Linked DNA regions of Homo sapiens: region 2 is linked to region 1. A link means that fine-mapping ties the variant in region 1 to the expression of a gene that starts in the linked region. Tissue or cell type: skeletal muscle. Region 1 holds a variant in brackets; the other region holds the start of a gene. All regions are shown on one strand. Distances are from middle to middle.

What was found. PIP is the estimated chance that this variant, and not a neighbour inherited with it, causes the effect.
Region 2: it holds the start of ZZEF1, and the variant in region 1 is fine-mapped to the expression of ZZEF1 in skeletal muscle (GTEx, PIP 0.96). The same link has a PIP of 0.9 or more in Th17 cells.

What each region holds. Positions count from the first base shown.
Region 1 is chr17:3,997,044-4,001,661 of GRCh38, reverse strand. No RefSeq gene overlaps it. Among named protein-coding and RNA genes, the nearest start is that of LINC01975, 22 kb to the right of the region's middle. The variant A/T (reference allele first, on the strand shown) is at 2,306.
Region 2 is chr17:4,140,569-4,144,872 of GRCh38, reverse strand. It overlaps ZZEF1 (zinc finger ZZ-type and EF-hand domain containing 1), which reads left to right and starts at 1,843. Exons shown (of 55, transcript NM_015113.4): 1 at 1,843-2,331. The coding sequence starts at 1,978. It overlaps CYB5D2 (cytochrome b5 domain containing 2), which reads right to left and starts at 1,676. Exons shown (of 4, transcript NM_144611.4): 1 at 868-1,676. The coding sequence starts at 1,117. RefSeq lists enhancers at 828-1,407, 978-1,530, 1,558-1,867, 1,531-2,082 and a silencer at 1,948-2,117.

The sequences.
Region 1 (4,618 bases):
TCTCCAGGAGGTGGCAAGGTGTCCTCTCACCTCAGCGGAAAGTATTTCTGACCCAACTTTATGCAACAATTTGGCTCCAGTAGGTTGAAATAATGTCACAGCTCTCTTCTCATGACATTAAATATGGACAGTATATGGAAAGGAAATGTAAAAATTCCAGAAATAAAAAGGCCTCCAACAGTGTCCAGTCAAGCCACAGATGGCATCCAGTTGCTCCATTACCAAATTCTCCTTCTCTCTTGGGGTTCTTGGCGTACGTAGCTTTGCTCATGCCCAACCAGCTTCTAGACTTCCTATCTGGAGGCGCTGTCCCAGGATTCGTTGGGATTTCTTCAGTTGCAAGTTAAAGACACTCCAAACTAACTTAACACGGAAATGGATTGACTTACAAAACCGAAAAGCCCGAGGGTTGCCTCTAGCCCCAGGCAAAGCTAAATTCCAGGGACTCAAAGATGTCGGCTCCCTCTCTCTCCCGCCCTCCATCCTGCCTCTTCCTCCTCTTCCTCCTCCGCTCATTCTCCTGCCCTGCTTCCACCTGGGTTTTCAGGCAGGTGAGGGCGAAAATTAAAGCACCAGGTGATGGCTCTCTCCTCTTCCTCGCGGCCACTGACCACCTCTGATTCCCCAGTGGAGAGGGCTTCTCACTCTCTCTTCATGTGAGGCTTCCCAAGCTGTTGGCTGGTATCTTCTAGCCGTGAGTTAATTTACTGTTTTTTGTTTGTTTGTTTTGTTTGTTTGTTTGAGACCGAGTCTCACTGTCACCCAGGGTGGAGTGCAGTGGCGCGATCTCGGCTCACTGAAACATCCACCTCCCGGGTTCAAGCGATTCTCCTGCCTCAGTCTCCCGAGTAGCTGGGATTACAGGTGCCTGCCACCACACCTGGCTAATTTTTTGTCTTTTTAGTAGAGATGGGGTTTCACCATGTTAGCCAGGATGGTCTCGATCTCCTGATCTCATGATCCACCCGCCTCGGCCTCCCAAAGTGCTGGGATTACAGGTGTAAGCCACCACACCCGGCCAATTTACTGTTTTAAAAGCTACCTGGGAGACCCATGAGTTTGTGTTGTCACCTCAGAATTGCTGAGCAACACAGCATCCATGACAATGGCAGAAGTACCCACGCAGCCACTGTGAGCCTCGTCAACACATCAGCTGGACCACTCAACCACTCGGCCAGGCAAGATGCCCCCAGATGTGGCAGGCAGCTTATCCACTAGTGAGTTTAGAAATTTGCAACAGAAGTGGAGAGACAGACATTTAAAACAACTGATCTTAAGACCAGAAAAAGGTGAAATGCAGAAGAATGAGCACATGTCTATCAAGCAGATGCAAACAGAAAATCAGAGTTATTCAGCATCAGGCAATATAATTTGAGACAAAATTAAACTGGGCAAGGCCAGGCATGGTGGCTCACGCCTGTAATCCCAGCACTTTGGGAGTCCGAGGTGGGGGGGATCACTTGAGGTAAGGAGTTCAAGACCAGCCTGGCTAACATGGTGAAACCCCATCTCCACTAAAAATACAAAAATTAGCCGGGCGTGGTGGCGGGCGCCTGTAATCCCAGCTACTTGGGAGGCTGAGTCACGAGAACTGCTTGAACCTGGGAGATGGAGTTTGCAGTGAGCCAAGATCACGCCATTGCACTCCAGCCTGGGCAACAAGAGCAAAATTGCGTCTCAAAAAAAAAAAGGTAGTTCTTCAGGCTAAAAGCAAGTTACCCCGGATGGCAATTTGAATCCACAAAAAGCACTGGTAAAAGTAATTATGCAATTATAAAAGACAGTATAAATTCATTTTTCTTCTCAACTGATTTAAAAAGCAACTGTATAAATATGAATATAACATATTGTTAGGCCTATTACATATAAAATGTAGTATATTTACCAAAAGCAAGACAAGAAAGGTGGGTGGGAGCAAAGCTGTACTGGGCTAAGGAAATGACTCCAGATGTCACTCAAATCCACGAGAAGAAATGAAGAGAACTAGAAATTATTTTATTTATTTATTTTTTGAGACGGAGTCTCGCTCTGTCGCCCAGGCTGGAGTGCAGTGGCGCGATCTCGGCTTACTACAACCTCCACCTCCCGGGTTCACGCCATTCTCCTGCCTCAGCCTCCCAAGTAGCTGGGACTACAGGCGCCGCCACCACACCTGGCTATCGTATTTTTAGTAGAGACGGAGTTTCACCATGTTAGCCAGGCTGGTCTGAAACTCCTGACCTCAAGTGATCCCCCCGCCTCGGCCTCCCAAGGTGCTGGGATTACAGGCATGAGCCACCGTGCCCGGCCTAGAAATTATTTTTTT[A/T]AAAAAGAGGATTAATATAATAAAAGCTGTATATACTTATTCTCCTTTTTCTCTCAGCTTCTGTAGAAAACATAAAATTATTTAAAGTAATGATTATAACAACTTATTGTTGGGCTTGTAACATTTATAGATGTGATAGTTATAACAACAATGCCACAAAAAGGAGAGAAAGGGAAAAAAGCTACATAGGAGTCATGTTTCTACATCTCATTAAAATTAAAGTTAATATAAATCTTAAGCTGAGGCTGGGCGCGGTGGCACATGCCTGTAATCCCAGCACTTTGGAAGGCTGAGGCAGGTGGATCACCTGAGGTCAGGAATTTGAGACCAGCTTGACCAACATGGCAAAACCCTGTCTCTACTAAAAAAAAAATACAAAAATTAGCCAGGCATGATGGCACACACCTGTAGTCCCAGCTACTTGGGAGGCTGAGACAGGAGAATTGCTTGAACCTGGGAGGCAGAGGTTGCAGTGAGCCGATATTGCGCCACTGTACTCCAGCCTGGGTGACAGAGCGAGACTCTATTTCAAAAATAAATAAATAAATAAATCAGAAGCTGATTCTAGTAAGTTAAAATGTATAGCCAGGTGCAATGGATCAGGCCTGTAATCCCAGCACTTTAGGAGCCCAAGGCAAGAGGATGAATCGCTTGAGCTCAGGGGTTGGAGACCAGCCTGGGAAACATAGTGAGACCTCATCTCTATAAAAAATAAACAAAATTAGCCAGGCATGGTGGTGCTTGCCTGTAGTCCCAGCTGCTCGGGCGACTGAGGTAGGAGGATTGCTTAAGCCCAGCACATCAAGTCTGTGGTGAGCCATGATAATGCCACTGTTTTCCAGCCTGGGTGACAGAGTGAGACGCTGTCTCAAAAAAAAAAAAAAAAGTATATAAAACCCTAGATCAACAACTAAGAAAATGCCAAAAATATACTTCAAAAAAATCATCATAGAAATGTAAATGCTACCTTAGAAAATATTCACTTAATGCAAAGGAAAGCAGTGAAGGAAGAATGAGGAACAGAAAAGACTTGAGACATAGAAAACAAAAAGTAAAATGGCGGCATAAATCCAACTATACCAATAATATTAAATGTAAATGGATTAAACAATGTAATCAAAAGGAAGATTATTGTACTGGATAAAAAAAAAGATTCGACCAGGCACGGTGGCTCACGCCTGTAATCCCAGCACTTTAGGAGGCCGAGGCGGGCAGATCACGAGGTCAGGAGATCAAGACCATCCTGGCTAACATGGTGAAACCCCATCTCTACTAAATATACAAAAAATTAGCCGGGTGTGGTGGCGAGTGCCTGTAGTCCCAGCTACTCAGGAGGCTGAGGCAGGAGAATGGCGTGAACCCGGGAGGTGGAGGTTGCAGTGAGCCGAGATCGCGCCACTGCACTCCAGCCTGGGCGACAGAGCGAGACTCCATCTCAAAAAATAAAAAATAAAAACACAAGGTTCTACTATATGCTGTCCATGGAGAAACATTTTAGATTTAAAAGCACAAATAGATGAAAAGCAAAAGAATAAAAAAAAGATATATCATGCAAAGGGCAATCACAAGAAAGCTGAAGTGGCTATAGTTTTATCAGACAAAATAGACTTTAAAACAAAAAAAATGCTTCTAGGGACATTTTAGAATTATAAAAGGGTCAATCCATCAGGTAAATATAACAATTATAAATATATATGCACCTAGTAACAGAGCACCAAAGCACATGAAGCAAAAACTGACGGAAATGAAGCGGGGAATAGATAACTCAGCAATGATAGCTGGAGACCTCAAGACCCCACTTTCAGTAGTGGATAGAAGTAGCCAGGAGACACTGTGGAAGGCCGCAGGGTCCTCTGCCTAGGAAAACCAGAGACCTTTGTTCACTTGTTTATCTGCTGACCTTCCCTCCACTATTGTCCTATGACCCTGCCAAATCCCCCTCTGCGAGAAACACCCAAGAATGATCAATTAAAAAAAAAAAAGAAAAAAAAAAAAAAAAAAAGAAGTAGCCAGGAGATCAACAAGGAAATTGAACATCATTTATGTATTTATTTTAGAATAAGTCTCACTATGCTGCCCAAGCAGATCTTGAACTTATGGGCTCAAGCAATCCTCCTACTTCGGTCTCACAAGTAGCATGAAAATTGAAGACTTAAACAACACTATGAACCAATTTGACTTGATGGATGTCTATAGAACACTCTACCCAACAAAAGCAGAATATACATTTTCTCAAGTGCTCATGGAATATTACCCAGAACAGACCCTATTCTAGGCGATAGCAAACCTCAATATATTTTAGTTTATTTTAAT
Region 2 (4,304 bases), 140 kb before region 1:
AGAGCTTGCAGTGAGCCGAGATCAGGCCACTGCACTCCAGCCTGGGCGACACAGCGAGATTCCATCTTTAAAAAAAAAGCACTAGACTGGTGGTCCGAGTCCATATTCTGTCAGTATTCAGGTGTGAGGGTTTCAGGCAAATCGCATCCTTTAACCCCCTCAGCTGTAACACAGGGACACCAGCATAAACTTAATTTGACAAATGTTTCTTGAGGCCTAACATATGCACAACTTTGGTCTACGTATCAAGGACTGTAAAGGTGACTGGACCCCTTTCCTCTGCCCTAACCTTCTAAGGAAGGCAAACAGGTGCATCTTGTACTAGAAGCAGGAATGACTCAGACCAAATGTACTATATGACGGGCCATAAAGGAATAAAGTATTGATGCATGCTCATAAACCATGGATGAACCTTGAAAACACTATGCTTAGGGGTGGGGGGAAGAAAGATTATTTGGGACCAGGGCATAATGAAGAGATGGTTGGAATTATTAAGGAAACTGTGAGGGTAGGGGCGGGGCGGGATCTCGTTTATCTGTGCCCTAAGAGCCCCCACAAAAGTCCGGCACACAGCCCGTATCCTAGGGCTTCCGACGCTGGGTAATGGGTAACAAGAGACAGAAGACATGTTTCTCCAATGTAAGTCACGCAGGGCGGTGGTGGATGACAGAGCTGGCCCACAGTCCCGCCAGAGCCAGAGAGCCTAGAAGGATAGTGCATGCAGCTCGTCCCGCCCACCGCACGGGTTTGATGGATGTGGGGTGGGGATGGGGGGGGAAATAGATGAATAATGAACCAACGAACGACGCGCAGGTGGCTACTGGCTCGCGCCAGCGGAGAGAAAGGCGTGAGCAGCCTCGCTGATACCTGCGAAGCCGCTATAGTGGGACCCAGGCTCGTAGTGCCTCCGGCCGGAGGACACATCGTAGACACGGCCGAGCAACGCCAAGTACAGGCCCGGGTCCCCTGGGCCGCCGCGGTAGCGAGACAGCTCCTCCGGTATGAAAAGGCGAAAGCCAGCGCGGGGACCCCACCAGCCCATAAGCCGTGCTGCCATTACCGCTGCTGCGGCTACAGCCAGGCCCAACAAAAGCCCACGGCCTCCGCACCTCAACATCTATATAGGCCCACCCGCTCCGCACTTCCGAGGTTGCCGCCTCTATCTACAGCTAAGATGGCCGAGACGCCGAGCGTGACGTCATCGGCGCGCGCGCTCTCGCTCTCTCTCTCGCGCGCTAGTGCTCGCGCTCCCTCCCTTAGTCTCTCTCGTTTTATCTGTATTCCTGGCACTGGCGAAAAGCTCGCTGTCTGCGACTTTTTCCAGGTACTTTTTTTTTTTTTTTCTGAGACAGAGTTTTAGCTCTTGTTGTCCAGGCTGGAGTGCACTGGCGGAATCTCGGCTCACTGCAACCTCCGCCTCCCGGGTTCAAGCGATTCTCCTGCCTCAGCCTCCCAAGTAGCTGGGATTACAGGCACGCGCCCCCACGTCCGGCTAATATTTTGTATTTAGTAGAGACAGGGTTTCACCACGTTGGTCAGGCTGGTCTCGAACTCCTGACCTCAGGTGATCCACCCGTCTCGGCCTCCCAAAGTGCTGGGATTACAGGCGTGAGCCACCGCGCCTGGCCCTTCTCGTACTTCTTGGCTTGCAGGTTGTCAGCCCCAACAAAGATGGCGGCAGCGGAGGCTACGGAATGACGTAGATACTGAGACAGACTCGTCCTCTGGGAAATCAAGGTTGCACCCTTTGAGGCGGCGCTCCCCGCCTAGCTGTCGTGAGTTGGTAGAGGCCGCCTATCTACGTGACGGCGCCTTTGCGACAGCGGTCGTCGCTTGACGGCCAGGAAGCCGGAAGCCGCAGGGGCCGCCGTCGTCTCCTCCGCGTCCCCGCCCGCCAGCTGCTGTCGGAGGTTGACAGGTCGAGGCGGGGAGGCGGCGGCGGCGGCTGCAGAGCCAGGCGCCCAAGACGGAGACCCCATGGGGAACGCTCCGAGTCACAGCAGTGAAGACGAAGCGGCAGCTGCCGGTGGCGAGGGCTGGGGCCCACACCAGGACTGGGCCGCGGTCTCGGGCACGACCCCCGGCCCGGGCGTCGCGGCTCCAGCGCTACCACCCGCCGCGGCGCTGCTGGAGCCGGCCAGGCTGCGAGAGGCTGCTGCAGCGTTGCTGCCCACACCCCCCTGCGAGTCGCTGGTGTCGAGGCATCGCGGCGCGTTGTTTCGCTGGCTGGAAGAGCGGCTGGGCCGCGGCGAAGAGTCTGTCACTCTGGAGCAGTTCCGGGAGCTGCTGGAGGCTCGCGGCGCCGGCTGCTCTAGCGAGCAGTTCGAGGAGGTCAGGGCCGGCAGGCGACTGCGGGGATGGGGCAGGGCGGTCGCCCCCAGGGGACTGAAGGAAGAGGTGGGCATTTGCTTTGGAGAGGCCAGGCGGGGACCCATATGAGGTGTTTCCAGCTTTTCACCAGGCGTTTGCTTCGTTTCTCTTTAACCTATGTTAGAGGTCTGGAAAGTCTGCATCAGGCCGTCCTTGCTCTGAAGAGCTGGACAAGCCCATATGTCTCTCTCTGTATGTTGTAATGCAGACCTTTGTGCAGTTGATTGACGCTACTCTGGAGATCTTCTATCAGATTCTCGAACAGTTTGGAGAGAAAAGAGATGTAAGGATAGGAGGAGTGGCGCTGAGAACCATTTTTTGTATTGTCCTGTCCAGGTTTTTACACAGCACCTTCCCAATTCAGTGTGGGCGCCGAATAAGTGTGGAAAGACAGTAGTAACATGCTGGAAAGGCTCACATTCTAAAACCTATCCTCCTCATGCAAAAACTAGCTTTTCTAAAATACATACTGGTTTGTAGATCCTTAAAGAACCATATATTAGACTCATTTAAACCTTCATAGGATCCGAAACTGATAGGCAAATACCAGGTTTCCTGTGAATACTTGTAATTATGCAGTTCTTCATATAATCACCAAGATCATGTCTGCTAAGTCATTAAGAGAGCAAATTGATTTGGCAACAAAATATTTTCCTTGGAAGGCATTTTGGGAGTTTATTTACTGGGCGCTTCACTTCGAGTTAAGAAGACTGATCCAGGGTTACCCAGTGAATCATTAGTAAAACAGACTATCAACTAGATCTCTTGCTTTTTTTTTTTTTCTTTCTTTCAACTTTTATTTTAAATTCAGGCGTACATGTGCAGGATTTGGATTTGCAGATGTATTACATAGGTAAACGTGTGCCATGGTGGTTTACTCCACACAGCATCCCATCACCCAGGTATTAAGCCCAGCATCCATTAGGTATTCTTCCTGATGCTCTCTCTCCCTCCACCCGCACCCTATTTTTTGTTTTTAATGTCTCACTACCTCCTTCCTGGGATCCTATTTCTTTTAACACCACGGTATGACCAAAAAGGTACTTATTTTGTGAAAATGAGTTAGCCAGTCATGTAGAATCTTCAGTGGCCACGAAGGGTGTGTACATAAAGCAGTAAACCAGCGGGTACTTGCAGTGCCTTTAAAAGGTTCTGTTCACCTTAAAATCAGAGGCTTTTAAAATATTTTAAGAATGTCTTCCTGTACATGGCCAGAATTCAGATAATGTAGTTTGTGTGTTTCTTATGAAAAAAGTACCTTTAAGGCATCCCAACCCTTAAAAATAATAGTCATGGCTGGGCGCAGTGGCTCACGCCTGTAATCCCAGCACTTTGGGAGGCTGAGGCGGGAGGATCATCTGAGGTCAGGAATTCAAGACCAGCCTGGCCAACGTGGTGAAACCCCACCTCTACTAAAAATACAAAAATTAGCTGGGCATGGTGGCGGGTGCCTGTAATCCCAGCTACTTGGGAGGCTGAGGTGGGACAACCGCTTGAACCCAGGAGGCGGAGGTTGCAGTGAGCTGAGATCACGCCACTGCATTCCAGCCTGGGCCTCAGAGCGATACTCTGTCTCAAAAAAAAAAAAAAAAGTCATATTAGTTAGTGAAAGATCTCCTTTTTTTTTCCCCCCAGGAATACACATAGTACCTTCTTTCTAGTATCTACGCGTATTATGAGAATATGAAGTAGTAGTGGGAAGAACCATGCAGAACTGTTGAAGGAGATGGCACTTTGCAGATTTGAGCAAAGGCAAATGGAGAGAAACACCGTTTACATTCTGAGAGTTTCTGACAGAAATAGAACTTTATGTAGAGTTCATAGGAGTCCCTTAATAGAAGGTCAAGAAATACTTGAGGTGTGGTCCAGAAATCACTCAGGGGTTGTGGCATTATTGTTCACTGAGCAAATGTTTATTGGGCGTATATCGAGTG